7 linked regions of the Homo sapiens genome follow. The protein of the gene in region 4 interacts with the protein of the main gene of each other region in a biochemical or structural test. Each region holds a gene or a part of one and is shown on either strand. Other genes may lie near its edges. The genes, in order: NUDT1, KPNA6, MSN, SKP2, BTRC, BRAP and SIRT6.

The links.
Region 1: of the proteins of SKP2 (region 4) and NUDT1, one has a biochemical effect on the other in vitro, tested with the Homo sapiens proteins (one study listed by BioGRID).
Region 2: the proteins of SKP2 (region 4) and KPNA6 interact in a test that uses a peptide from one of them, tested with the Homo sapiens proteins (one study listed by BioGRID).
Region 3: the proteins of SKP2 (region 4) and MSN form a complex in vitro, tested with the Homo sapiens proteins (one study listed by BioGRID).
Region 5: the proteins of SKP2 (region 4) and BTRC form a complex in vitro, tested with the Homo sapiens proteins (one study listed by BioGRID).
Region 6: the proteins of SKP2 (region 4) and BRAP form a complex in vitro, tested with the Homo sapiens proteins (one study listed by BioGRID).
Region 7: the proteins of SKP2 (region 4) and SIRT6 form a complex in vitro, tested with the Homo sapiens proteins (one study listed by BioGRID).

The regions. Positions count from the first base shown.
Region 1 is NC_000007.14:2,247,618-2,251,645, forward strand, and holds the end of NUDT1 (oxidized purine nucleoside triphosphate hydrolase), read left to right. Parts: intron 1-1,693; exon of another isoform or gene 1,694-2,075; intron 2,076-2,239; coding exon 2,240-2,385; intron 2,386-3,024; coding exon of another isoform or gene 3,025-3,080; exon of another isoform or gene 3,081-3,118; intron 3,119-3,211; coding exon 3,212-3,384; 3' UTR 3,385-3,528; downstream 3,529-4,028. UniProt on the Homo sapiens protein: Oxidized purine nucleoside triphosphate hydrolase which is a prominent sanitizer of the oxidized nucleotide pool. Catalyzes the hydrolysis of 2-oxo-dATP (2-hydroxy-dATP) into 2-oxo-dAMP.
Region 2 is NC_000001.11:32,114,556-32,118,873, forward strand, and holds part of KPNA6 (importin subunit alpha-7), read left to right. Parts: intron 1-4,318. UniProt on the Homo sapiens protein: Functions in nuclear protein import as an adapter protein for nuclear receptor KPNB1. Binds specifically and directly to substrates containing either a simple or bipartite NLS motif.
Region 3 is NC_000023.11:65,737,154-65,741,471, reverse strand, and holds part of MSN (moesin), read right to left. Parts: intron 4,295-4,318; coding exon 4,134-4,294; intron 2,948-4,133; coding exon 2,855-2,947; intron 2,503-2,854; coding exon 2,278-2,502; intron 1,744-2,277; coding exon 1,579-1,743; 3' UTR 1-1,578. UniProt on the Homo sapiens protein: Ezrin-radixin-moesin (ERM) family protein that connects the actin cytoskeleton to the plasma membrane and thereby regulates the structure and function of specific domains of the cell cortex.
Region 4 is NC_000005.10:36,158,578-36,162,475, forward strand, and holds part of SKP2 (S-phase kinase-associated protein 2), read left to right. Parts: intron 1-3,898. UniProt on the Homo sapiens protein: Substrate recognition component of a SCF (SKP1-CUL1-F-box protein) E3 ubiquitin-protein ligase complex which mediates the ubiquitination and subsequent proteasomal degradation of target proteins involved in cell cycle progression, signal transduction and transcription.
Region 5 is NC_000010.11:101,528,346-101,532,663, forward strand, and holds part of BTRC (F-box/WD repeat-containing protein 1A), read left to right. Parts: intron 1-2,891; coding exon 2,892-2,988; intron 2,989-3,949; coding exon 3,950-4,087; intron 4,088-4,318. UniProt on the Homo sapiens protein: Substrate recognition component of a SCF (SKP1-CUL1-F-box protein) E3 ubiquitin-protein ligase complex which mediates the ubiquitination and subsequent proteasomal degradation of target proteins. Recognizes and binds to phosphorylated target proteins.
Region 6 is NC_000012.12:111,644,381-111,648,353, reverse strand, and holds part of BRAP (BRCA1-associated protein), read left to right. Parts: intron 1-3,791; coding exon 3,792-3,973. UniProt on the Homo sapiens protein: Negatively regulates MAP kinase activation by limiting the formation of Raf/MEK complexes probably by inactivation of the KSR1 scaffold protein.
Region 7 is NC_000019.10:4,173,074-4,176,869, reverse strand, and holds the end of SIRT6 (NAD-dependent protein deacylase sirtuin-6), read left to right. Parts: intron 1-932; coding exon 933-1,028; intron 1,029-1,109; coding exon 1,110-1,190; intron 1,191-1,718; coding exon 1,719-1,842; intron 1,843-1,923; coding exon 1,924-2,253; 3' UTR 2,254-2,761; downstream 2,762-3,796. UniProt on the Homo sapiens protein: NAD-dependent protein deacetylase, deacylase and mono-ADP-ribosyltransferase that plays an essential role in DNA damage repair, telomere maintenance, metabolic homeostasis, inflammation, tumorigenesis and aging.

The sequences.
Region 1 (4,028 bases), on a different chromosome or scaffold from region 4:
TCTCACCCTGTTCCCCGTGTTCCGCCTGGGGAACCGAGTGCCATGGACAGAGCAGACACTTGGGCAGAACTGAACAGCGTCATCTTCGCCTGCCTGGCGCTCCCTGCCTGGGAAATGGAGCTTCAGCTCTGTCTCCCGGCGGATTCTTGATGCTTCCTACGCTGCCATGTGCTAGGGAAGATTAACTAAAATCAGTCACAATATCCCACTGGGAGGTGACGCTTTTTAAGACGAGCAACAGCCGGCCGCCAAGAGGCGGGTGAGGCCCCACTGAGCACTTCTATTGCATCTAACTGGGGAGCCATTTATACCCAAGTAGAAGCACACGTTCACTTTGTAGCTCAAGCCCAACTTTAATTAGCCATCTGTATGAATAAATGCTGATTCCAGGTCCGTTTCCTCTCCAGTCCCTGCAGTTTAAGCTGAGGAGGCATCGCTTAAATCAGACCATTTAGACCAGGCATGGTGGCTCACACCTGAAATCCCAGCACTTTGGGAGGCCAAAGCAGAAGGATCGCTTGAGCCCAGGAGTTCAGGACCAGCCTGGGCAACATAGCAAGACCCTGTCTCTACAGAAAAACACACACACAGAAAAATTAGCCGGGCATGGTAAGAGGAGGAGACTGAGGTGCCCAGCGGCTGCAGCCCGTGCATCCCCAGGGTCCCAGCACAGAGTGGGTGTTCAGAAGTGTCTGCTGAGGGACTGAGCAAGAACCCGACTGAGCACAGCAAGCAAACGCTCAGAACGGGAGGTCAGCAGCACCGCTGTGCCCAACACGGGTTTCCACCATAACCCGAAGTTGGAACGTTTTATTCTTCCATACCAAACAGGAGTTGAGAAGGCGGCTGGGTTCCTTGAGGTGTGGAATGTCATGCACTCCTCCTTTCTTGCGTGGAAAGCCCGAGGTATAAAGTGTGTATGATGTTTGCTTTTTTTTTTTTTTTTTTTTTTAAGACAGGGTCTAGCTCGGTTGCCCAGGCTGGAGTGCAGTGGAGTAATCCCAGCTCACTGCAGCCTCCAACTCCTGGGCTCAAGCATTCCTCCCATCTCAGTCTCCTGAGGAGCTGGGACTACAGGCGAGTGCCACCATGCCCAGCTAATTTCTGTCCTTTTTGTAGAAACAGGGTTTTGCCATATTGCCCAAGCTGGTCTCAAACTCCGGAGCTCAAGCAATCAATCCTCCCACCTTGGCCTCCAAAAATGCTGGGATTACAGGCATGAGCCACCCTGCACCCAACCTGTTTGCATTTTTATTTTTTAACTTTAAGCTATTAAGGGTTAATGTTTGCATTTCTTAAGGGAAAAACAGAGGAGAAAGAGCCAAAGGAAAAACACTGAAATGGTAGCATTCCTGGGTGATGAGTTTATGGCGTTTTGTTTCCTGGTTGTCTATAACAAATATGTAATTTTTAAATTAGCAACAGCGTTAGACTACTTCGGGGAAACCTGGCTCTGTGTGCCACGAAGCAGGGAAGGGCTTGTTCCCAGGCGCAGCAGCACTTGGGCATCCCGTGGTGAAGTCAGCCCCTTACACCTCCTCCAGGCACAGCTGTGGGGAGCATGTCCCGAGAAGGCGCAGGAAGAGGCCCAGGCCACGTGTCCCGTGTGGTCAGCCTGGGGACCAGAGTTAAAACCAGAGCTCCTCCTTCAGGAAACAGATCATAGAAGCCTGTGGTTTCATCCTGTGTTCTCAGAGAAGAGGCACCAGGCTGGAAAGACATTTCTTTGGGCAGACAGGCCCAGAGTATAGGGCCCAGGTTCCCAGAGCAAGCGTCCCAGGGCCCCGGCGGTCGTAACTACCGCTGCATGGGCTCTGATGCTCAGCCGCGGAAAAGCAAGTAACCGGGAATGAAGGAAGTGGGGTCAGTCCCAACCCTGCCACGTGCGGGTCTCGAGACGGTGGACAAGTGGCTGGACTCCACTGGGCCTGGGCTGTCACTGGTACACAGAGGGCACTGGGCTAGAACTGCGTTCCTCCCACCAGAGGCTCCACACCATCTCCGGGCCCCTCCCCAGAGCCTCTCAACCAAAATCAGTGTCTTCAAAGTTCAAGTTGATTCTGAAGCTCAGCCAGGTCGGGACCAGATAATGCATTCTAGGGGACATCCTCCTGGGTCTCCCATCCACCCTGGTGGCTCCCTGGGCTGTGTGTAGATGCCCAGCTCCTCCTCCCTGCCATCGTGTGGGCATGGCACCATGCCCTGACGGCCTCCCTCCCCTGCCCACCTCTGCCCGCAGGGAGCTGCAGGAGGAGAGCGGTCTGACAGTGGACGCCCTGCACAAGGTGGGCCAGATCGTGTTTGAGTTCGTGGGCGAGCCTGAGCTCATGGACGTGCATGTCTTCTGCACAGACAGCATCCAGGGGACCCCCGTGGAGAGCGACGGTGAGTCTCACAGGGCCTGCTCCCCCTCCCCACTATGCGGGTCCCATCTCCTGGCTGGGAGAAAGGCCATCCGCCCAAACCATCTCTGAGTGCCAGGGACCGGGCAGCCTGCGTCCCCCTCCACCCCACAGTGCCAGCGTGGGGCCCATGAGCCGTGGTCTCTGCACCGAGGCTCCAGTAGCGTACCTGCCCCTGCTCTGCGCCCACCCTAAAATGAGAAACACGGTAATGAGGATGAAATATAAACGATCGTCAGGTTCCTCACGATCACTCAGTGAACTCCTCAGAGAGTCAGTGTACGTTTGGGCTGGCCAGACGCAGTGGCTCACCCCTGTAATCCCAGCACTGTGGACTGTGGGAGGCCGAGGCAGGAGGATCGTTGAGCCCAGGAGTTCAAGACCAGTCTGGGCAACACAGTGAGACCCCATCTCTACAAAAAAACATGGTTTTGTTGTTGTTGCTGTTGTTGTTTTGAGACGAAGTCTCGCTCTGTCGCCCAGGCTGGAGGGCAATGGCGCAATCTCGGCTCACTGCAAGCTCCACCTCCCAGGTTCACACCATTCTCCTGCCTCAGCCTCCCAAGTAGCTGGGACTACAGGCGCCCGCCACCACGCCCGGCTAATTTTTTTGTATTTTTAGTAGAGACGGGGTTTCACCGTGTTAGCCAGGATGGTCTCGATCTCCTGACCTCGTGATCCTCCCGCCTCGGCCTCCCAAAGTGCTGGGATTACAGGCGTGAGCCACCGCGCCCGGCCAAAAAAAACATGTTTTTTAAGCATGAAGTTTGGGTTGCACCTCAGTGCCTCCTCTTCCCCCATTGGTACAGAAATGCGCCCATGCTGGTTCCAGCTGGATCAGATCCCCTTCAAGGACATGTGGCCCGACGACAGCTACTGGTTTCCACTCCTGCTTCAGAAGAAGAAATTCCACGGGTACTTCAAGTTCCAGGGTCAGGACACCATCCTGGACTACACACTCCGCGAGGTGGACACGGTCTAGCGGGAGCCCAGGGCAGCCCCTGGGCAGGAGACGTGGCTGCTGAACAGCCGCAAACCATCTTCACCTGGGGGCATTGAGTGGCGCAGAGCCGGGTTTCATCTGGAATTAACTGGATGGAAGGGAAAATAAAGCTATCTAGCGGTGGTTTTTTTTTTTTTTTTTTGGAGATGGAGTCTCTCTCTGTTGCCCAGGCTGGAGTGCAATGGCACGATCTCGGCTCACGTCAACCTCCGCCTCCCAGGTTCAAGCGATCCTCCCATCTCAGCCTCCCGAAGAGGTGGGATTACAGGCGCACATTGCCACACCCAACTAATATTTGTCTGTTTAGTAGAGATGGGGTTTCACCATGTTGACCAGGCTGGTCTTGAACTCCTGACCTCAGGTGATCCACCTGCCTCAGCCTCCCAAAGTGCTGGGATTCCAGGCGTGAGCCACTGCACCCGGCCGGTCTCTAACCTTTCAAACGTTCTTCTCCAGACACCAGCACAGCCTGCCAGGTCCCGTCCACAGGAAGCTACCAGATGTGCTGGGCTTCAGCCCGCACTGCTGCACAGAGGTGGGAGAGGATGGAGACTCTGTCCCCGAGGTGGGCAGCTGGCCCAGGGCAGAGACACACATGCTCAGTGCCACAAGCTGGGGATGTG
Region 2 (4,318 bases), on a different chromosome or scaffold from region 4:
ACGTTTTAAGCTTCTGAGATTTTCAGAATAGTAATTGAGCATTGACTTCAACTTAAAGGCCCCAGCTGCATTAGCCCATAACAAGAGAGTCAGCCTGTCATTTGAAGCTTTGAAGCCAGGCATTGACTTCTCTCTAGCTATGAAAGTCCTAGATGACATCTTCCTCCAATGGAAAGCTGTTTCTTCTACATTGAAAATCTGTTGGCTAGTGTAGCCACTTTCATTAATGATCTTAGCTTGATCTTCTGGATAACTTGCTGTAGCTTCTGCATCAGCACATGCTGCTTCACCTTGCACTTTTTTGAGACAGTGTCTCACTCTGTCACCCAGACTGGAGTGCAGTGGCACGATCTCGCCTCACTGCAGCCTCTGTCTCCCGGGTTCAAGTAATTATGGTGCCTCAGTCTCCTAAGTAGCTGGGATTATAGGTGTGTGCCACCACGCCCAGAACATTTATGTATTTTTATAGAGACAGTGTTTCGCCGTGTTGGCCAGGCTGGTCTCGAACTCCTGACCTCAAGTGATCCGCCCACCTCAGCCTCCCAAAGTGCTGGGATTATAGGCATGAGCCACCACACCCGGCTTCACTTTTTTTTTTGAGACGGAGTTTCTCTCTGTTGCCCAGGCTGGAATGCAGTGGCGCGACCTCAGCTCACTACAAGCTCGGCCTCCCGGGTTCACGCCATTCTCCTGCCTCAGCCTCCCGAGTAGCTGGGACCACAGGCGCCCGCTACCACGCCCGGCTAATTTTTTTTTGTATTTTTAGTAGAGATGGGATTTCACCATGTTAGCCAGGATGGTCTCGATCTCCTGACCTCGTGATCCGCCCATCTCAACCTTCCAAAGTGCTGGGATTACAAGGCGTGAGCCACTGTGCCCAACTTTTTTTTTTAAGATAGGGTTTTTGTCTGTCACCCAGGCTGGGGTGCAGTGGCAAGATAGCACACTGCAACCTCTAATTCCTGGGCTCAAGGGATCCCCCCACGTCAGCCTTCTAAGTAGCTGGGGACTACAGGTGTGTGCCACCACACTCAGCCAATTTTAAATTTTTGTGAGACAGTGTGTCACCATGTTGCCCAGGCTGGTCTTCAAGTCCTGTCCTCAAGTGATCCTTATTCCTCAGCCTCCAAAGCCACTGGGATTACAAGCATGAGTCACTGAGTTTGGCCTCCACATTGATGGCTTCTTTCCTTAAACCCTTTCTTTTTGAGACGGAGTCTCACTGTCGCCCAGGCTGGAGTGCAGTGCCATGATCTCAGCTCACTGCAACCTCTTCCTCCCAGATTCAAGCGATTCTCCTGCCTCAGCCTCCCAGGTAGCCAGGATAACAGGTGCCCGCCACCACATCTGGCTAATTTTTGTATTTTTAGTAGAGATGGGGTTTCACCATGTTGGCCAAGTTGGTCTCGAACTCCTGACCTCAGGTGATCCACCTGCCTCAGCCTCCCAAAGTCTTGGGATTACAGGCATAAGCCACTGCGCTCGGCTCCTTAAACCTTATGAACCAGTCTCGTTAGAGCCTGGCTCTGGATTAGGCTTTGGTTTAAGGCAGTATTGTGGCTGATTTGATCTTCTGTCAAAACCACTAAAAGTTTATCCATATTGGCAATAAGGCTGTTTTTTCTTTTCTTTTCTTTTTTTTTTTTTTGAGACAGAGGCTGGAGTGCAGTGGCCCTATCTTGGCTCACTGCAAGCTCCGCCTCCCGGGTTCATGCCATTCTCCTGCCTCAGCCTCCTGAGTAGCGCCCGGCCGGTTGTTTTTTTTAAACATTTGTGTGTTCACTGGACTAGTACTTTTCATTTCCTTCAAGATCTTTTCCTGGCCAGGTGCAGTGGCTCATGCCTGTAATCCTAGCACTTTGGGAGGCCCAGGCAGGCGGATCACCTGAGGTCAGGAGTTCAAGATCAGCCTGACTAACATGGAGAAACCCTGTCTCTACTAAAAATACAAAATTAGCCGGGTGTGGTGGCACATGCCTGCAATTCTAGCTATTTGGGAGGCTGAGGCAGAAGAATCGCTTGAACCCAGGAGGTGGAGGTTTCGGTGAGCTGAGATCGCACCATTACACTCCAGACTTGGAAACTCCTTCACAACAAAAAAAAAGAACTTTTCCTTTGCATTCACAGCTTTGCTAACTGGCGCAAGAGGCTTAGCTTTCACCATATCTTGGCTTTTTGACATGCCTTCCTCACTAAGCTTAATCATTTCTAGCTTTTGACTTAATGTGGAGACATGCAACTGCCCCTTTCACTTGAACAAATAGAGGCCATTGTAGGGTTATTAATTAGCCTCATTTCAATATTGTTGTATCTCAGGGAATAGGGTGGGAGAGAGACTGTGGAATGGCTTGTTGGTGGAGCAGTCAGATCATACACAGTATTTATCAGTTAAGTTCTCCATCTTATATGACCATGGCTCATGGCACCCCAAAACAGTTGCAATACTAGCATCAAATATCACTGATCACAGATCACCATAACAGATAAAACAAAAAACAAAAGTTTGAAATATTACGAGAATTACCAAAATGTGGCACAAAGTGAACACATGCTGCTGGAAAAATGGCACCAGTAGACTTGCTTAACATAGGATTGCCACAAACCTTCAATTTGTTTTTTTTTGTTTTTTTTTTTTGAGACGGAGTTTCACTCTGTCACCCAGGCTGGAGTGCAGTGGCACGATCTTGGCTCACTGCAACCTCCACCCTCCGGGTTCAAATGATTCTCCTTCGTCAGCCTCCTGAGTAGCTGGGACTACAGGCGCCTGCCACCACGCCCGGCTAACTTTTTGTATTTTTAGTAGAGATGGGGTTTTACCATCTTGGCCAGGCTGGTCTTGAACTCCTGACCTTGTGATCCACCCGCCTCGGCCTCCCAAAGTGCTGGGATTACAGGCGTGAGCCACTGCGCCCGGCCCAATTTGTTTTTTTTTTTTTAAAAAAAACACACATTGGCTGGGTATGCTGGCTGACGCCTATAATCCCAGCACTTTGGGAGGCTAAGGCAGGTGAAACTCTTGAGCTCAGCAGTTTGAGACCAGCCTGGGCAACATAGTGAGACCCTGTCTCAAGACAAAAACAATAACAACAATAAAAAAACACACAGTATCGGTGAATCACAGTAAAATGAGATATGCCTGTACTTTATATATTCATTTAATTCTCAGATTCTCATGTTTTAGTTGAGAAAACCAAAGGATGGAGAGGTTTCAGTAACTTGGGCAAATTCATAGCTAATACATGGAAGAGACGCTTACTCAGTATGATTCTAATCAAAATATGGGCTGTTTGTACATAAGCATTCCTGAAGTAGCTAAAGCAATCTCTTCCCCACCCATCTTTTCCTATAGAAATCTCACCTGTTTTTCTTTTCTTTTTTTTAATTTGATATGGAGTTTCGCTCTTGTTGCCCAGGCTGGAGTGCAGTGGCACAATCTCCGCTCACCGCAACCTCTGCCTCCCAGTTCAAACTATTCTCCTGCCTCAGCCTCCTGAGTAACTGGGATTACAGGCATGCACCACCATGCCCAGCTAATTGTTTGTATTTTTAGTAGAGACGGGGTTTCACCATGTTGGTCAGGCTGGTCTCGAACTCCCAACCTCAGGTGATCCTCCCGCCTCAGCCTCCCAAAGTGCTGAGATTATAGACGTGAGCCACCGTGCCCAGCCATCTCACCTGTTTTTCAAGATATACTTTAAATACTGCCTTCTTCATGAACCTTTCTGAAGTACTTTATGCCTTCCAGTTTGGAAATGAACTCTCCTAAATTCTATAGCACTTTGTTCTTACTTTTTTTTTTTTTAAATGGAGTCTCGCTTTTTCTCCCAGGCTGGGGTGCAGTGGTGTGCGCTTTTCACATCCTTTTTTCTATTACAGTTGTTTTATTCCATGTTATTAGTTTTTTGACCAGTTACTTACTCTACATAGCCTCATTTTCTTATCTTTAAAATAGGTATAGGTTAGGTGCGGTAGCTCACACTTGTATTCCTAGCACTTTGGGAGGCTCAGGAAGGAGGATTGGTTGAGGCAAGGAGTTCCAGACCAGTCTGGGCAACATGGCAAAACCCCTGTCTCTACAAAAAAAAAATTAGTTGGGCGTGGTGGGATGTGCCTGTACTCCCAGCTACATGGGAAGCTGAGACAGAAGGATCGTTTGAACCTAGGAGTTTGAGGTTGCAGTGAGTTATATGATCTCACCATTGTACTCTAGCCTAGGTGACAGAGCAAGACCTTGTCTTTAAAAAATAAAAATGAAATAAAATAGAGATAATAGGATTGTTACAGGAATTAAATGAGGTAATGCCTGTAAAGCATTTTA
Region 3 (4,318 bases), on a different chromosome or scaffold from region 4:
TACTGAAAGCTTCTTATATTAATAATTTTGGCAAAATGTCATTTTGTAATATAGTATATGCTTTCCAGGTGTGGGGGTGGTAAAGTAATGAGGCCAAAATCATCCTGCCCCAAGACTAATATCTTCTAATGGTGCATTAGCAAGGAAGGCAGAAATCAATATTTAGATATCAGTAGAGTACATAATACTGTAGAAAGAAGAAGAGCACACATGAGACAGAGAAGGAGGTGGATGCTCCTGGGTTGAGAGCAAGGGGTGGGGGTGTGGAAGGGACTAGGCCAGAATCCCCAGCAGCTCTCTGGTTTACAGCTCCAAGGGACAGAACAGCTGGTGTCAAGACCTGGGTTAGAGGTTTGTCAAACAGAGGCAGGGCCCAGTCACCTCTTTGGAGGGGAGTGATGAGAAGGGGATTTTGGTCACCTGAGAGGGTTGAGTAAACTTGGATCAGGGCACAGGCTTCTCTCACCATACTCAGCTTTTTGCACTCACTCCCTAGTTGAGCCTACTGGCATCAAGCTCTAGATGCCAAGGCTGGGATGGCTGTGGAGCAGGAGCTATGGCCCAAGTAGCTCTGAGAGGGGAAGAGACCTAAAACCCCTAGCAGGGAAAATACTGACGCTAGGTGTGAACATATCCTCTCTTTTCACAAGAGTCCTGATGGGGCTGGCTGAGCTTTTGGGTACTCATCCCTACTGTTATAGCTGGAGAGGATTTGGGTATTGAAGCAGGGAGGGGCAGATCCCACGAAGTGACTGCAGATCTGGAATAATAAGTAAGGGGTAGATCTGCCCATAGAGCTCACTTTAGACCGGCCTATACTCCTACAAGGAATTGGGGTAGGATCTTCTACTCAGCCTTGCCACAATAGAATGGCCAATGCCCTTCTAGTATGTTTGGTGAAGGTCTTGAAGGCACCATTTCCCCCATCCACCCTGGGGAGAAATTGAGTCCCTAAAGTCAACGACAAGGCTTATTGAGGCTGAGTTTGCAACAGATCCGATCTGGGAGGTAGAAACAAAAATGACTGAACATCTTTTTATCCCCCAATCGTTACAAAGCCTAAATAACTCTAAACGGGATGGGAGGGCAAATTTTAGGTCAGTTGACATCCTGGAGAAGATATCCTAGGTCCTGTCTCATTCCCTAGACCGCATAACACTCCAACCGTGTAAATCTCAGGACCCTGAAGAAGACAGTGGTAGGGGAGAGGAGGGGAGCTAGCTTCCAACCTACTCCACACTTGACTCCCATAGGACAACAGTAAGTGTAAGGGCATTTGCAAAATCAAGTGGAAAGTACCTCTAGGCTGGAGAAGTAGGATATTCTAGCCATACAGATTCAATGGAACAGAGAAGAGAAAGGAGGTTCCATTGGCACCATAGTGAGCCATTCATTTGCCCAGGGAAGTGGGTGGGGGCTAAGGGGCTAGGTTTGGTCCCATGGCTACATTAAATGCTTGGCATGACTCCAGGGCTGCTCTAGTTAGTGGCTCCAGCACAGTATGAGTTAGGTGAGTTAGGTGTAGGAGTGTGGGGACAAGGAAAAAGGGAGGAGGGGTCCCTAGAGGCTGGGTGCCCATTACATAGACTCAAATTCGTCAATGCGCTGCTTGGTGTTGCCCTGCCGGATCTGGCGCAGGGTCTTGTATTTGTCTCGGCCCAGTCGCATGTTCTCAGCATGGATCATGTCATTGGCAGTCTTCTTGGACTCATCTCTGGCATTGGCCAGCTCCGAAGTGAGGGCCTGTGAGGATGTATGGGAACACAGAGGTCAATGGCTTTCTCTCATTTTACCTCCTGTTATTTGACCAGACTTCCCTTCTCTTCTGTTTCCTTCTTTCTTCCTCACCCTTTCTCTCTATATATAAATATTGAGAGTCATTTCCAACTCTGTTAGAACTGCAGTGGGGCAAGAATATTAAAAAAAAATAAATAAACTTAGGGGACCAGTTGATAATGGGTATCCTTTAAGAGTAGAACAACATACAAAAGATTCAGGTGGGAATTTTGTCAGCTAGATATTTTCTTAATGTAAGAGGTGAATGGAGTGAGTGGGAGGTGGGGCAGAGAGAAAATCTCAAAAAGGGAAGAGATAGCCCAAGGTCTGATTAATAAGTGAGAGGTGCCTATCCTTAAAGCTGTCACTTAAGAACGGCTTGGGCTCCCATACAACACTGGGACAGGATCTTATACCTATCCCCCATGATGGTCTAGGGAATGCCATGGGCTACTAAATCAATGCATATAGTTTCCTTGCCCCTTGGCCCTACTTGTATACCTTCAGGTGCTTCTGCACACGCTCATTCTTCTCTGCCTCAGTGGTACGTTCCTCCTCACTGCGGTCCTTGGCCATAGCATCAGCCCGTAGGTCAGCACTAGCCTCTGCCCCATTCTCATCCTGCTCATCCTGCTCATTCTCAGCAGGCTCTGCCACATGAGGTGTACTCATGGCAGTCTTCAGCTCAGCACGGGTCTTCTCCAAGTCTTCCTGTACCATCTGGGCCTGTCCAGTGACAGAAGGAGAGAAAGACTGTCAGTGAGACCAGTTAAACTGTGGCATCCTGTATATGCCTAGAACGGTCTGGCAAGAGGCAGGCACCAGGTAGGACAAGGCACTTCATCTGCCTGATCCTTAGTTTCTTCATCCATAAAACAAGAGCAATTGTACCAACTTCCTAGAGGTATTAGAGAACTCCAGTAAGTATTTGACGAAACCATGAGTGCCTTCTCCCATGCTGCCTGCTGTGGGAAGTATGAAAGAGGGAGGGAGCCAAAACATAAGGAATCTAAGGAGCTGTTACCTATGCATATGGCACCCATTCCTTCAATGCTTTGCTTTAGGCCCTGTGTCTTACCTTCTGCTGCCACTCCACAGCCTCACTCTCCTTCTTCTGTCGGGCCATCTCCAGCTGGGAGATTCGAGCTGTCAGCTCTGCCATTTCCAAGGCCTACGGATAAATTGGAAGCCTGTGAGAGCTGGGCCTTCTGGTCCTCAGGACCCAGGTGTCTTCAACCCAAGTCCCCTGGGGGACTAGTAAGGGACCTACTGCTCCACTTGCTTGCTGCCTCAGAGACTCTTTTACCAGACTACTTCATTCCAGTCCCATCTTCCCTGACCACCACTTCCTTTTAAGTCAGAGCTCCCCCACCTAGACTGTAGGCCTCTTGAAGACAAACAATATGCCATCTCTGTCCCTTCCTCATTATCTCTCCCCCTGCCCCTCTTGGCAAGTATGCAGCTGGGGGCCTCAGTAAAGCTTTGGCCATCATTGGGTCACTTCCTGAAGTGGCAGATCCTTTCCTGATATCCTAGAATGCTCAGGATTCGACTAAGAGTCTTCCCAGGACAAGTACAGGAAAGACACTCAAGTGTCACAAAGCTATCTGAACAAGGAAAAAAGCTTATGCACACCTTGGGTAAATCTCCCATGACAGCTTCCTCATGAGAGACAGGTCTTGGTTCCCTCTATTCCCACCTCCAACAGTACAAAGGAAGAGTATATGTCAAGGAGTTTGGACCACAGGTTCTTAACTTCTGAGTCACAGAACCCTTGGAAACTGTGATGAAAGTATGGATGCCAAATGCCCCAAAAATGCATAGACACATAGTTTTGCATGTGATTTCAGGGAGCAAAGCTTTCAAACAGAGGCAGAAATGGGTGGGTTCTAATCCTTATTTAGCTACAATTGTGTGATCTTTGGTGAATCTCTTCCCTGAGCTCTAATTTCCTTATCTGGGATATTATCTCATATGAGGTTAATCCCATAGGGTTACTGGGAAGAAGAAATAAGTAAGGAAAAGGGAAATATTCCCAACACAGCAACATACAGCAGGAGCTCAAATATGAGTCCCTTTTGTTCTTTTCTCCTTCCCTTTCCTTTGCCAGGTCAATCAGCTCAGATACCCAAGAGTTAAGAAAGTGAACAGAAACTAAGGGTTAGGGAAGACTGCAAAAATTTCTGGGCCACACTAGTGACTTCTCAGCTTGCTTCTGAACTAGTTATTTGCTGGAGGCCCATGGAGTGGTAGCCTGCTCTAAAAAGCCAGCATGTAAGCAAAAGTAGCTATAAGTAAGTAGGCAGACAAGGAAGAAAGTTCAGTTCCCATAATCCCAGCCCACCCTACAGCTTTACCAGCTGTTCCTGAGTCTTTTTCTGGTCCCGGGAGGCCTGCAGCAAGGCCTCCTTGGCCTCTTCAGCTTCTTGACGCTCCTTGGCCAGCTTTTCAGCCTCGCTCTGGGCACGCTTCCGTTCCTGCTCAAGTTCCAGAGCCCTACGGGTCTGTTCTTCCAGTTCTGAGCAGAAAAGGAGGGGAGAAG
Region 4 (3,898 bases):
CTTTGTTTTATTTTCTCTCTCCTCCTCCACTCACTCCCTAGCCCTGATTGATTTCTGTTTCCATAGCAAGTCCGGGTTTAATTCTCACCTTTTCAAAATTTGTACTTACAACAGAGGAGAGCATAGAATATTAGAACCCACTAGGATGGAAAGGGCATGATTTGAAATCAGACCTGAGTTTAAATTCCCCCTCTGCCACTTACTGATTGTGTGACCTTGTCTCTTTTATCATAGTTGCATGTTTTCTTGAAGCCCCAGCCCCCATCTCCCAGAGACTACAGCTATACTGATAGAGGACATTCCCTTCTGCTCTGGGTTTTTGTCTTCAGCCTCATCCCCTCCATATGCCAACAGTGCTGTGCACATAGTCGTTAATTGGTTAATAAGGGTTAGCCATTCACACTAATAAAGAATTAGCACATTCACCATTTGAATGAAGAGGGCTAATAAATACATTTGGCAAATATTTATAGAGTCCTGTTATGTGCCAGGCATTGTTAGGTAATGGATGTGCAAATCTGGGCATGGGGCCTGTGGTGGTATCCTGGGTGGGAATGCTTCTTTGAGCAGGTGCCATTTAAGCTGAAATCTGGAGGAGTTGGGAAGGCAAAGATGGAAGTTGCAACACAAAGTCCTCCAGACTTTGGAGTCTCACATGCAGTCTTCATTGGTTAGGTCTACTGACCTCTGCATTCATCACTATGCCAGATTTTCCTCTAGCACTTTAATTACCTGGCTGCTACTGCTCTTTTAATTGGTCCTGATTTCTTATGTCTTCCTAATAGAAAGCACCAAGTTTGTTAATTTATTTCTCCTGCCCTGTACTTCATAGCAAGCTTTTCTAATTTCCTTTCCCCAGCCATAATTTCTGTTGGTGCCCTATCTATAGCCCCTTGAAGCCCCCCATTCCCTTACATGCCAAAGCTTTTGCCTACGTGTAGATGAGATTCCATGCCTGAGGGCTTTCTCTGGGCAGGAATACTGGGGAGTCCCCAAATAGTGACCAACAGCAATTGATGGATTAATACCCCAGCACTCGTGCCCTTGGTTGAGACAGCTCTGGGGTAGTTTCTAGATGGTTTACTGGAGTCCCCAGAAGATTTGAACCCCAATTGCCCATAGGGATAACCTGCCTATTAGCCTACTCCAGGTTGGCTTTCTTCCCTTCCACCTCTGTCTTCTCCACTCTTTCTAGTGCTTCCTGGCATCACTTCCCAAATAAACTACTTGAAGTCAGAGCTTCAGAATCTGCTTCTGGGGGACCCAAACTTAAATAAAGGGCAGATACGGGGTTTTGGTAAGTCATACCATGCAGACCTTGTCCAGTGTCTGCCCATGGGTGAAAATTCAGAGCAGCACTGAAAAGGTCATTGCATGAAGAAAATACCCAGACTTAACTGGGAAAGGAGAGGAATATAGAAAAGAAAGTTTTACTCCCTGCTGCATTATTTAATCTTTTCTTGTACCTCATTTACTCTTCACTGAACAATTTTGCAAGATAAATCTGTCAATTTCCTTTCCTGCAGGTAAAGAAACTGAGGCCAGAAAGATTAAGTAACTTGCCCAAGTTCACAGACTTGGGGCAACACAGCCAGGATTCTGATAGAAACTGTGCTGCTTTCTCAGTCCAGTAGTCCTCAAATGTGTTGAGGAGGCCCAGCGTATGGTGTCAGTATGATTTTTACAGATTATAGTAAAATCTCAACATATTAGATTCAAAATAGCTAAGTATGTTATTGAAGTATAGTTAAGCTTACTCTTCCATAGAGGCCACTTCCTCCAGGAAGGCTTCCTTAACCTCTGCACCATTCCCATGTGCTGCACAGCACCCTGAATCCTGCTGTAGCCCATCAGGATAGTTTATTGAAATTTCCTGTTTAATTGTTTGTCTGTATCTCTCAAACTCAGAGTAGAATAAGGGTCAGGATTGTACCTTACTTATTGTTGTGGCCCAAAACCTAGAACAGACCTCAGTGTATATAGTACATGGTTAATAAATACGTGAGTGGATGACTATACTTATAGCTAAATATAGTTATGCCCAATCAATTACTAGATTCTGATCTAGATATGTAAGAGGCAGCAGAGGTCTGAGAGAGTTGGATTAATGGGAGAAAAACTTGAGAAAAGCCTGTCATTCAACTTTGTTTTCAATTTGGGGAGCAGGGCAAGAGCCTGGTTTGAGAACCTTTGTCCCCTGCCCATGTTGACTTTGGAGGAACTTTGTGGCAGTGATGGAACAGCTGCCACGTCGAGGAGCCTCCTCACAACCTCCAGCTGCCTCCCCAGATCAGCAGGGGTGATCTGCCTTCAGCTTTCTACCCCTAGCTTTCAGGGCCTCAGTCAGTCCTTTAATTTTGTCCCCTGAAGGGCGTGAGGCTAGGGGAACAGGCATTCATTGAACAACTGTGTATCTCCTACTCATTCTTCAAGAGAGGCCACTTCCTCCAGAAAGGCTTCCCTAACCCCTGCGCCATTCCCATAAGCTGCACAGCACCCCGAATCCTACTGTAGCCCATCAGGATAGGTTATTGAAGTTTCCTGTTTGTCTATATCTCTCAAACTCTGAGCAGAATAAGGGTCAGGATTGTGCCTTATTTATCATTGTGTCCTTAAAACCTAGAATAGACCTCAGTGTATAGTACATATTTTATAAATATGGGAGTGGATGAATGTATCAATTTTATGCTAGTTCCTGAAAATACAAAAATTGTTAAAAAAAAAAAAAAAAGCGTTTTTGTTTCTCAAGAGCTCCTGGGGGTCTAGAGAGATGAGTAAGTAAATAATGAAATTATGGTACATAAGTGGCCTGTCCTTGTTGATGTCACGGGAGGCCTTCTGTGGGAACTGGGGCTTCCATTTGATTTTAAATGAATAGTAGTTGGAGGCAAGCACAGGATGTGCAAAAGCATTGAGATACGGCACAGAATGACTCATTCTAAGAATTACAGGTAGCTCCAAATGGCTGGAACACATTTCTAGATAACAAACCTAGGAAAACTAGTTGAGACCTGGCTGAAAGCGTTTAACTTTGTACTAAGCATTGTGGACTTTAGCCTAAATACCTGGGGTGTACCACTGAAGGATTCTAACTGGGGGAAAGACATGCTGGTTTAGAAAGACTGCCCAGGGCAGCAGGTGTTTGTCACACTCCTCGGTGTTTTTCTCCCTTGTGTCCTCAAACCCACTTATACAGGGCCTGGTACAAAGGACATGCTCAGTAAAGACTGGCACCTTTAAATGGGAGTAGGAGGAGAGAATATCACCAGAATTGGTGTAGAAGATCCATCAGAGGTGGAAAGCCTAGGAAGGCAATCATTGAACTCATCTGACTGTTTTTTAGGATTCCTTCATTGTGCATTTATTTCCTTCTTGGCAATTGTTACATTATCCTGAGCTTGTGGGATTATTCTATGTATTCATATGTAAGAGTTTCATACTTGTTGAATAGTTATTTAGAGATTGCTTCTATGAAAGAAAACTGCGCTTCCTGCATCCACCTTTCTGTTCTAAACACAGCAGCCAGAGTGATCCTTTTTGAACTTACGTGAGGGCCTGTCATTCCTGTGCTCAGAATCTTCTAGTGGTGCCTCATAGAATTCAGCGTCAAAGCCAAAGGCTTTATCATGACCTAGGAAGCCTGCATGACCTGGCTGCTCTCTGATTTTTCTACCCACCTACCTCTGCGCTCTACACTGGCCTCCTTGCTATGCCTCAAACACACATGCTGTTCCTTGGATCTAGAACACGTACACCAGATACTCACAGGGCTCACTCCCTCACTTTGTTCAAGCCTTTGCTTAGTGATCGTCATCTCAGTATGGCCTTCCCTGACCACCATGTTCAAACTTAATAACATCTGCTCTGAACTCTCTGTTCTCTCCCTTGCCCTGTTTAA
Region 5 (4,318 bases), on a different chromosome or scaffold from region 4:
AAATGGCAAGATCTTTTATGTTAGTTACAAAGAAAAAACAATCATTGAGAAGATGGCTTTTGAGCCTTTCTAAAGGGTAGGTGAAGTAATCCAGGATCCAGCACTAATTACCACTTTTTTCCCCTATCTCTTTATCCACAGAAACCCATTCCCGCTCTTTTGAGTATCCTTCAGAGTTCTGACTATATCCCCTTGTCTTTGGGCATGTTTATCCTCTTAATCCCATGATAAACCCATGAAATTCCAAATACTTATACATCCCGTGTCAACTTCCTCCATTATTCCCTCGACTTTCTTGTTGCTGCTTCTGTTTTTACATGTTGACTTTATTCCTGTGTCAGTTTTCTTCCCTTTTTTAAAAAAAAATTTACTCCATCAGTTTCTCATTTTCTTCTTTCAAGTTGTCTTACCAAGCCTAATACGTCAATAAAGTCTTTCTGTGTTATACTTTTCCCCATATGCTAGCTTTGAAAGGTTCTTCCATTTCTACTAACCAAAAATAGTAAGTAAATACAGTTTTCTAATAAAGCTTTTATCTCTAAGTTTTAACTTGGTATTTGATGTTGTATTTTATATCTAGATGGATTTGACAGTCTTCCCCTGGGACATGAACTCTGTAGTTTTCTCTCTTGAATAATACTGAATATGCTGTCTGCTCAGTAATGGTAACTCTTAAAAGTATAATAAAAGACCACTTGGGAAAAGTCAATTTTCTTAATCAGCAGATCACATTTTATGATAACATTCTGAATTTAATATTTAACGTTTATCATGTACTCACATTCTTGTAGGTACTAGGCATTTCACATAGAAGTAGTCCCTGTTTTCAAAGATCTTCCATCATAAAAGGTTTTGACTTAAAACATAAAGACAGAAGCCAGTTTTCAGTACCTAGCCACCTCTTTCTGTAACACTTTGATTTGAAGAAATTCAGATACTTTACCAAGACATGGTAAATGCAGTGAGGTGGAAAACAAGATCAGAAGCTTATGTGAGTTCTCTTTCCTTAGAATGTAGATAGTATCATTGCATAGGAAGAAAGTCTTGGAGTGCTAGAGATTAAAAGAAGACAGGAATCTCAGGAATGGTGGGCATTGAGAAACAATAAAGTAGTTAAGAATGTGGGTGGGCTCAGGAGTCAGACTTAAAATCTTCACATTCAAAATCTATTATTTGCCTGCAAAGTGTTTGTAGAATAATATTGTACAGAGAAATGTACCATTAATCTGGAATTCTTTCATAACGCATCTTGTTTCCCCTTTTGTTTATGCTGGTGTATCATGTTTCATTAATCCCCCTTTTTATAAGTATTATTTTCACTTCTCTATTTCAGATTTTCTTTTCTGTATTAACACAGAAGTTAGAGCCATCTACCTTCCTGATAGGAAATTTTCTCAACTAATTTTCAGGGTATATAACAGGGAGAGGGCAGGGGAGAAACACTCCTGGAGACACCAAACAATTAATTATATTGTAATGGAGCTATAGAGGGAGGAGTGGATGACTGGCCCAGAGAAAACATGATTTCTCTGGTGCCAGGATTACACTCAGAGGCATTTCTGCCTCTCTCCACTTTGCAAGGCACGGTGCCAGTGAGAACAGCAGTTAGTACACCCATAGTGGGGTTTACTAGCTTCCACACCGTGTTTGGTGGGTTCTTAACTTCCGGATGAGGAATTAAATTTTTTACCCAGCAGGAAGTGATTGCCATTTACTGATTTTTTTTTTGTAGCAAAGATCTAGCTTGGGATACGAGTATTCCAGAGATGTGCTGTCATAAGGAAGGAGATACTAACAAATGTTGCTCACTGGAATCAGGGAAGGCAGTTAAGTACATGTGTATGTACACAGCCAGGAACACACCTGTGAAAGTCAGTTTCATGCCTTAGACTTGATAGCAGTGCTCTTAGGCATTTCTTTTTTTTCTTCTTCCCTAGCTGCTGCTGGACACACCTGTGATCCTTTTGTTTTCTGATGAAATGAACTGAATTGCTCCTTTCAAAGCATAGTTGCACTGATTAGCAGCAGCCTGGGTGACTGAGCAGCCACCACACCTTACCCTGTACAAATAAAGACCTAGCAAAAGTGATCTCCATGCCAGAGGCATTGCTGCTGTCTACAATGCTGGGGACCACTGACACAGTAAAAGGGAAAAAAAAAAAAACCTATAGGGCATGTGCTAGTTCAAAGGTAATAGTTACCATTACTAACAAAATTTCCAAAAGATGAGGCCAGTGAATCTAAGCAGTAGTCTTAATAGAGCAATAGATGAATTCTGATTGTACATATTCCATTTGTTTACTGATATTATAATATTCCTAAAGGCTTGGTACTCCGATGTTCTACACTGGAAATAATCATGTTTTACCCAAAAGCAAATCAGTGTTGGTCAGATTCTTTAGAGCCCAGAAGGTTACTCTTTGACATGGGACTCCTGAAATCAGGCTTACCTTTGCTCCTCCGCAGACAGCTATGGAGAGTATATGGAATGGTAACCGTGAAAACACTTTCAAAATATATGAAGTTCCTTATAAATATATAATGTCGGCCGGGTGTGATGGCTCACGCCTGTAATCCCAGCACTTTGGGAGGCCAAGCAGGCGGGTCATTTGAGGCCAGGAGTTCAAGACCAGCCTGACCAACATGGTGAAACCCCATCTCTACTAAAATACAAAAATTAGCCAGCATGGTGGCAGATGACTGTAATCACAGCTACTCAGGAGGCTGAGGCAGGAGAATCACTTGAACCCAGGAAGCGGAGGTTGCAGTGAGCCAACATCACACTGCTGCACTCCAGCCTGGGCAACAGAGCGAGACTCTGTCTCAAAATATATATGTATTTAAATATATAATGTCATGATTTTCACTGGGAAATATTTGTTATTTTTTAGGGGACAGTATTTATTCAAAAACAAACCTCCTGACGGGAATGCTCCTCCCAACTCTTTTTATAGAGCACTTTATCCTAAAATTATACAAGACATTGAGGTAAGAATCTATGTATTTTGGGGTATTGCCCAAGGGCACAGAATTATCAGCATTCTTCAGTCACAGTATGGTTACAGCAAGCCCATTAAGGTTTATTGACATGAGTTGGGAATCAATCTCTTAGCTGGCCATGGTGGCTCACACCTGTAATCCCAGCATTTTTGGAGGCTGAGGTCAGGAGTTTGAGACCAGCCTGGCTAACATGGTGAGACCCCTGTCTCTACTAAAAATACAAAAATTAGCCAGGCATGGTGGCACACACCTGTAATTCCAGCTACTCAGGAGGCTGAGATAGGAGAATCACTTGAACCTGGGAGGCACATGTTGCAGTGAGCCAAGATCGCACCACTGCACTCCCTCCTGAACGACAGAGCGAGACTCCATCAAAAAAAAAGAAAAGGAAAAGAAAATCAATCTCTTTACAGGCGAGTAGGGTAGGTAAAATAAATTGCTAGGCAAAATTTTAAAGCTTTAAAAAATGGTTTACTAATAAGTAGATGAGAGAGTTAAAGAGATTGATCCCTTCATACATAGCAGTGTGACTGGTAAACTTGTACTCATAAGCTCATATTTAAATATCTTCTGAATTGAACCTCCTTAGAAGTTCATCAGTAGCAATCAGTAGCAATGGCCATCACATATGTAAGAGCACTGAGTGTATAACCTCACGTAGTTCGTAGCTTTTCTTCTCTTGATGAGTAGTCTCTTTCCACCAGATTTATTATTTAATTGAACAAATTATAGGCAGGGAAGTTCTAGGAAACAACCTTTAATTACCTTGCAAAAGGAAGAATATTTTATAAATATAGATAGTAGCCTTTTAAAGACATTTTTTAGTTTTCCCTAAGTTGTGTATATCCCATAGAGTAAAGCATTGAGCCATTGATTGTCATTAAAGCCTAAAAAGAGTTTGATTCTAGGTGTTTCCTAACACTGCCTCTTTCCCATTCCTTCTTCTCAGACAATAGAATCTAATTGGAGATGTGGAAGACATAGTTTACAGAGAATTCACTGCCGAAGTGAAACAAGCAAAGGAGTTTACTGTTTACAGTATGATGATCAGAAAATAGTAAGCGGCCTTCGAGACAACACAATCAAGGTGAGGTCTATTCAGTTGTAGAAAGGTAGCAGAGGGAGCAAGAGTGACCACATTCATAGCGCAGTCTAAAGCATAAACTCTAAGCATTATTTCTAGAAAGTAAGTGAAGATTTTAGATTGTTTCCAGTCCCAAAGCCAAAATCATTTCCTTAAAGGACAGACATCAGCTTCCCCACTATACAAACGGGTAGTCCTAGGGTTAAATTCTCTTCTTGAAATGCACTGAATGGG
Region 6 (3,973 bases), on a different chromosome or scaffold from region 4:
GCGTGAGCCACCGTGCCCAGCCCATCTTTATTTTTAGAGAGAGTCTTGCTCTGTCGCCAGGCTGGAGTGCAGTGGCGCAATAGGCTGGAGTACAGTGGAGCGATCTCAGTTCACTGCAACCTCCGCCTCCCGGATTCAAGTGATTCTCCTGCCTCAGCCTCCCGAGTAGCTAGGACTACAGGAGCACACCACCACACCCAGCTAATTTTTGGATTTTTAGTAGAGACGGGGTTTCACCATGTTGGCCAGGATGGTCTCGATCTCTTGACCTCATGATCCGCCCTCCTCAGCCTCCCAAAGTGCTGGGATTACAGCCTTGAGCCACTGTGTTCGGCCAGCTCACTACATCTTCCACCTCCCTAGGCTCAGGTGATCCTCCCACCTCAGCCTCCCAAGTAACTGGACTACAGCTGTGCACCACCACCCCTGGCTAATTTTTTTTTCTTTTTTTCTTTTTTTTTTTGAGACGGAGTTTCGCTCTTGTTGCCCAGGCTGCAATGGTGTGATCTCGGCTCACTGCAACATCTGCCTCCGGGGTTCAAGCAATTCTCCTGCCTCAGCCTCCCAAGTAGCTGGAATTACAGGCATGCACCACCATGCGTGGCTAATTTTGTATTTTTAGTAGAAACAGGGTTTCTCCATGTTGGTCAGTCTGGTCTCAAACTCCCGACCTCAGGTGATCCGCCTGCTAAAGTGCTGGTTTTACAGGCGTGAGCCACCGTGCTTGGCCTCTGGCTAATTTTTTGCAGAGACTGTTTTACCATTACAGGCATGGGCCACCACACCCTGCAAAAACTGGAAGTTCTTTTTCACCCTCTAGATCCTGCTATCTAGTGTTAACCATTATTAACCAGTACCAGTGAATATTTCTTCTTCTAGATGTTTAGCTCTGCCCACATAAATATCTCACATGCATAATCTTTTCTCTGCAAAAATAGAATCTAGGTATTCTTTTTGATAAAATATGTTTTTGGATTTTTTTTCATACTAGCACATCTAAATCTATCCTGATCTTTGTAACATCTGCATGCTGTTTAATTGTATGGATGTACTATAATGATTTCTGTTGTGGTGGTTGTTGTTGAAATAAGGTCTTGCTGTGTTGCCTAGGCCAGAGTACAGTGGCGTAATCATAGTTCACTGCAACCTCCAGCTACTGGGCTCAAGTGGTCCTCCTAGTCTGAGCTTCCTGAGTAGCTAGGACTACAGGTGTGTGCTACCATGTCTGCCCAATTGAAAATTTTTTTGTAGAGACGGGGTCTTGCCATATTGCCCAGGCTGGTTTTGAACTCTTAGCCTCAAGTGATCCTCCTCCTTGATCCTGTCTTGGCCTCCAAAAATGCTAGGATTATAGGCATGAGCCCTGCACCTGGCCTGCATAATGATTTTGACCAGGTTCCTATTGATTGTGTCAAGTTGTGTCAAATCTCACACTACTATAAGCAATACTGTAATGAGCATCTTCCTCCATGTCTCTTTTTACCTAATCCTGAGTATATCTATTCTATGGTATAAATTCCTAGAAGTAAAATAGCTGTGTCAAAGGGCATGCAAATTTTTTGTTTTTATTTATTTATTTTTGAGACGGAATCTTGCTCTGTCACACAGGCTGGAGTGCAGTGGCACGATCTCGACTCACTGCAGCCTCCGCCTCTAGGGTTCAAGCAGTTCTCCTGCCTCACCCTCCCGAGTAGCTGGGATTACAGGCACACGCTACCACACCCGGCTAATTTTTGTATTTTTAGTAGAAACGGAGCTTCACCATGTTGGCCAGGCTGATGTTGAACTCCTGATCTCGTGATCCACCCTCCTCGGCCTCCCAAAGTGCTGGGATAACAGGCGTGAGCCACCGTGCCTGGCCCAAATTTTTTGTTTTTATAGATATTGCCAAGTTGTCTTCGAAAGAGTTTATACCAGTTCATGCTCCAGTGCTAGTGTGTAAGTGCCTCTTTTCTCATGTCTCAGCTCTTGGGTGTTCTGATGCATAAAAATAGTATCTCAAATAGTGGGGTTTTTTTGTTCGTGGTTTTTGTGTGTGAGTGTTTTTGGTTTTTGTTGTTGTTTTTTTGAGACAGGGTCTTACTCTGTCAGACAGGCTGGAGTGCAGTGATGCAATCACAGCCCACTGCAGGCTCAAATTCCTGGGCTCAAGCAGTCCTCTGCCTCAGCCTCCCAAGTAGCTGGGTCTACAAGTGCACATCACCACACCCAGCTAGTTTTTTAATTTTTCTTTTGTATAGACGGTGTCTCGCTATGTTGACCGGGCTGATTTCAAAGTGACCCTCTCACTTTTGCCTCCCATAGTGCTGGGATTACAGACATGAGCCACTCTGCTGGGTCTCAGATGGTATGGGTTGTTTGTTTGAGACAAGATCTCGTTCTGTCACTCAGGCTGGAGTGCAGTAGCATGAACACAGCTCACTGCAGCCTTGACCTGCTGGGATCAAGCAATCCTCCAGCTTCAGCCTCCTGTAAATCTGGGACCACAGGTGCACGCCACTGCACCTGGCTAAGTTTTTTGATTTTGTGTAGAGACAGGGTCTTACTTTGTTGCCCAGGCTGGTCTCGAACTCATTTCCTGTTTCATTTACTGAAGCGATCCTCTCGCCTCAGCCTCCCAGAGTGCTGGGATTCCAAGCATGAGCCAATGCACCTGGCCTCAAATGGTGGTTTCATTTGCAATTCTTTACTTATGAGTAAGACTGGACATCAAGAATAGGGCACTCCCAAGTCTAAAGCCCTTTGGTTAGAATAAGTGCCCTTTTTTTCCCCTTCAGCAAATGCAATGAAGTCAGAGTACTTGACTCTCCAAGAATGCCACTTTTCCTCATAACTTCCTTATCACAGCTATCATCTCGAAGGCACCTATTTAACCACTGACTGCAAAACAAAGAAGCAGTAGAATTTTTACCGTCAGTCACAGAATAGTTTCTGCTACTGAAAACTTTCTGATGCTTAAAAAAAAGTGTCTTAAAAGTACATTTGTGGGCTGGACGCGGTGGCTCACACCTGTAATCCCAGCACTTTGGGAGGCCAAGGTGGGTGGATCACAAGGTCAGGAGTTCCAGACCAGCCTGGCCAAGATGGTGAAACCCCGTCGCTACTAAAAATGCAAAAATTAGCTGGGCACAGTGGCAGGCACCTGTAATCCCAGCTACTTAGGAGGCTGAGGCAGGAGAATCGCTTGAACCCAAGCGGCAGAGGTTGCAGTGAGCCAAGATCACGCCACTGCATTCCAGCCTGGGCAACAGAGTGAGACTCCATCTCAAAAAATAAATAAATAAATAATACACTTGTGGACTGGCGCAGTGCCTCATGCCTGTAATCCCAGTACTTTGGAAGGCCGAGACAGGTGGATCACCTGAGGTTGGGAGTTCAAGACCAGCCTGGCCAACATGCCGAACCCCAATATCTACTCAAAATACAAAAATTAGCCAGGCATAGTGGCAGGTGCCTGTAATCCCAGCTACTTGGGAGGCTGAGGCAGGAGAATCGCTTGAACCCAGGAGGTGGAGGTTGCAGTGAGCTGAGATCGTGCCATTGCATTCCAGCCTGGGCAACAAGAGCGAAACTCCGTCTCAAAAAAAAATACACTTGTGTTAAGTAGAGCAAAATTCTTGCTTTGCATAGCTGATTGCGATGGCAGAAAACCATTCTCCCTCACGATGGGAGAAAGGGGTCTGTCCTAAAGGGATTCTGAGGTCATGGTTTCTCTGTTCAATCCCAGAGCAGAAAGGGGACTGTGTCAGCAAATGAAAAATGTGCTTTTGTCTTCCTTTGTTTTTCAAAAGGTGCACTCAGCTAAACACAAAAGTGGCCAAACTCACCAACGAGCTCAAAGAGGAGCAGGAAATGAACAAGTGTTTGCGAGCCAACCAAGTCCTCCTGCAGAACAAGCTAAAAGAGGAGGAGAGGGTGCTGAAGGAGACCTGTGACCAAAAAGATCTGCAGATCACCGAGATCCAGGAGCAGC
Region 7 (3,796 bases), on a different chromosome or scaffold from region 4:
GGGGGGGCCGTGCCTCCCTCCTGTGGGGGGTACATCCGTGTCCTGGCACTGCTGTAGCAACCTGCCACAGATGAGCAGCGTAGAACAATAGAAATTTGTGATCTCACAGTTCTGGGGACCAGAAGTCCAAAATCCAGGTGTCTGCAGGGCCATGCCCCTCTGCAACCTGTAGGGGAGGATTTTTCCTGCCTTTTCCTGGCTGCTGGTGGCAGCCAGCCACCCTTGGTGGTCCTGGACCTACAGCCACAGGGGCCTTCTTATCTCTGTGTTTCTCCTTTTTTTTGAGACAGTCCCGCTCTGTCATCCAGGCTGGAGTACAGTGGGGCAATCTCGGCTCACTGCAACCTCCGCCTCCCGGGTTCAGGCAATTATTCTGCCTCAGCCATCCAAGTAGCTGCAACTGCAGGCGCCCGCCACCACACCTGGCTAATATTTGTATTTTTAGTAGAGACGGGGTTTCACCATATTGGCCAGGCTGGTGTCGAACTCCTGACCTTGTGATCTGCCCGCCTCAGCCTCCCAAAGTGCTGGGATGACAGGCGTGAGCCACCACGCCCGGCCCAGTATAACGATTAAAGTCAGGAAAAGTAAAGTGGACATCGCCTTCTCTAATCCCGAATCCAGACTCGGCCTGTCGCCCCCATGCTCCAATTGTTCCTGTTTCTCCTGGTCCGGGATCCCATGCTGGGTCTTGTCTCTCGAGCCCCTTCGTCTGTCTGGGACAGTTTCCTGCTTTGTTTTCTGTGCTCCGGGCACCGAGCAGCATCCCAGCCCGTTATTCATGGAAGGCTACTCGTTCCGTGTCGCTGGGTGCTAGTTCTGGTCACCTGTCCACCCCCCACCTCCCTGGGAGAACGTCACCCTAGAAACAGTGCGAGAGTCACCCATGGGAGCTCACCTGGTCCCATCCTCCCCCTTCCTCCCTGACACAGGCAGTACGTCCGAGACACAGTCGTGGGCACCATGGGCCTGAAGGCCACGGGCCGGCTCTGCACCGTGGCTAAGGCAAGGGGGCTGCGAGCCTGCAGGTGAGCCACCCCCACCCATGCCCTGGGCTCCAGGGGAGGCTGCGAGGCCCCTGAGGACTCTCCTCAGCTTCCTCATTGCAGGGGAGAGCTGAGGGACACCATCCTAGACTGGGAGGACTCCCTGCCCGACCGGGACCTGGCACTCGCCGATGAGGCCAGCAGGTCTGACCCCCCACCCCCAGGGAGCCCATGGTGGGGCGGGGCGGGACGACAGCAGAAACACAGCCAGCTCCAGCATGGGACAGTGGCTGAGGCTCACAGGCAGTGAGGGGAGGCTTCCTGGAGCAGGTGGGCCAGGCCAGGGGCTGCACACACGCACTCACACACACTCGTCACCTCATGGCTCTGGGTGGGTGCTACACAAGGAAACCAAGGCTTCCGCCAGGTGTCTCCTCTATCCAGTGCTGCCCAGCCGGGAGGTGACCGAGCCAGGGTCCCACCCTAGGTGTCCAAGCTCTTACCACACTGTGATACTCCCCGGAAGTGTCTAAGGGCCCGCCCAGATCAATGACCCCGCCAACGGACCGCAGAGGAGGGCAGGGCGGGATCCCAAAGGCTGACTCGGGAGTGGGGCTGGCCTTGACCGCCCCGGTGAGCACAGATGGCCTAGGTGTGAACCGGCCCCCAGGGCTGGCTCGGGATGTTGGCAGGAGCAGGGCATCAGGCTCAGCCCACGCTCCCCGGCCCCAGGAACGCCGACCTGTCCATCACGCTGGGTACATCGCTGCAGATCCGGCCCAGCGGGAACCTGCCGCTGGCTACCAAGCGCCGGGGAGGCCGCCTGGTCATCGTCAACCTGCAGCCCACCAAGCACGTAGGTGTCTGAGCCTACCCCTGCCCAGGGCCACCATGCACCCTCTGTCCCCCACGCCTGACCCGTCCCGCCCCTCGGCAGGACCGCCATGCTGACCTCCGCATCCATGGCTACGTTGACGAGGTCATGACCCGGCTCATGAAGCACCTGGGGCTGGAGATCCCCGCCTGGGACGGCCCCCGTGTGCTGGAGAGGGCGCTGCCACCCCTGCCCCGCCCGCCCACCCCCAAGCTGGAGCCCAAGGAGGAATCTCCCACCCGGATCAACGGCTCTATCCCCGCCGGCCCCAAGCAGGAGCCCTGCGCCCAGCACAACGGCTCAGAGCCCGCCAGCCCCAAACGGGAGCGGCCCACCAGCCCTGCCCCCCACAGACCCCCCAAAAGGGTGAAGGCCAAGGCGGTCCCCAGCTGACCAGGGTGCTTGGGGAGGGTGGGGCTTTTTGTAGAAACTGTGGATTCTTTTTCTCTCGTGGTCTCACTTTGTTACTTGTTTCTGTCCCCGGGAGCCTCAGGGCTCTGAGAGCTGTGCTCCAGGCCAGGGGTTACACCTGCCCTCCGTGGTCCCTCCCTGGGCTCCAGGGGCCTCTGGTGCGGTTCCGGGAAGAAGCCACACCCCAGAGGTGACAGGTGAGCCCCTGCCACACCCCAGCCTCTGACTTGCTGTGTTGTCCAGAGGTGAGGCTGGGCCCTCCCTGGTCTCCAGCTTAAACAGGAGTGAACTCCCTCTGTCCCCAGGGCCTCCCTTCTGGGCCCCCTACAGCCCACCCTACCCCTCCTCCATGGGCCCTGCAGGAGGGGAGACCCACCTTGAAGTGGGGGATCAGTAGAGGCTTGCACTGCCTTTGGGGCTGGAGGGAGACGTGGGTCCACCAGGCTTCTGGAAAAGTCCTCAATGCAATAAAAACAATTTCTTTCTTGCATCTCAGTGTGTTTACTTTATTTTATTGAGCCAGAGTCTCACTCTGTCACCAAGGCTGGAATGCAGTGGCGTGATCTCAGCTCACTGCAGCCTCTGCCTCCTAGGTTCAAGCAATTCTCCTGCCTCAGCCTCCAGAGTAGCTGGGATTATAGGTGTGTGCCACCACACCCAGCTAATTGTTTGCATTTTTTGTAGAGATGGGGGTCTCACTATGTGACTCAGGCTGGTCTCAAACTCCTGGGCTCAAGCAGTCAGGCCACCTTGGCCTCCCAAAGTGCTGGACTTAACGGGCGTGAGCCACTGTGCCCAGTGAGTGTTTAAATTCCCTATTTGTGGCAGGTCCTCGCCCCCCTGGGTCAGGAGTTCGTGGTCCCCTCCTCCCTGGACCAGCTGCTTGGGCTCCGTTGCAATCCCTGCCCCTCAAGCCTGGGGGCCGAGGAACAAGGGCTCACCTCTCCCCCCACCCCGCCTCTGGAGGGATCAGGCCAGTTTTCTGATGATGAAGCCAATAAGGCAGCTGGCATTTTCTGAGCACTCAGTTTGTAGTTATACACTTATGCACATGCTTTTTGTTGTTGTTTAACATTTACCCCCAGGCTATGAGTCCCCACCTGTGCTTTGGGCGCGATTTTGCGATGGCGCCCGGGCAGGCGCGCACAGCCCGCAGTGGGGGCGACCCCACAGACGAGCGCAGGAGCAGCCGGGTTCCACTCTCCCCAGCTGTGACCTTAGGCAGTCCCTCCACTTCCGACGCCTCGGTGTCCTCGCCCGCAAAATGAGCAGGGTGGGCCGCCCAGATCCCCGGGAAGGCAGCTGCCTTCCCCGCAACTCCGGAGGGGACACCTTGGAAGCGCCACGCCTGCCTCCCCGCACTCCGCCCGCCGCCGCTCTCCAAGGTGCTGAAGTCGTGCCCGGCGCCTCTCCCTCCGCTGCTCCAGCGCGGGCATCTGGCGGGGGTGTGGAGCCCACACCTCACTCACCCATCCCAGGCTGGCCCAGCCCCTCCTTCTGGGGAGTCGAGGAGCCCCAGACTCCG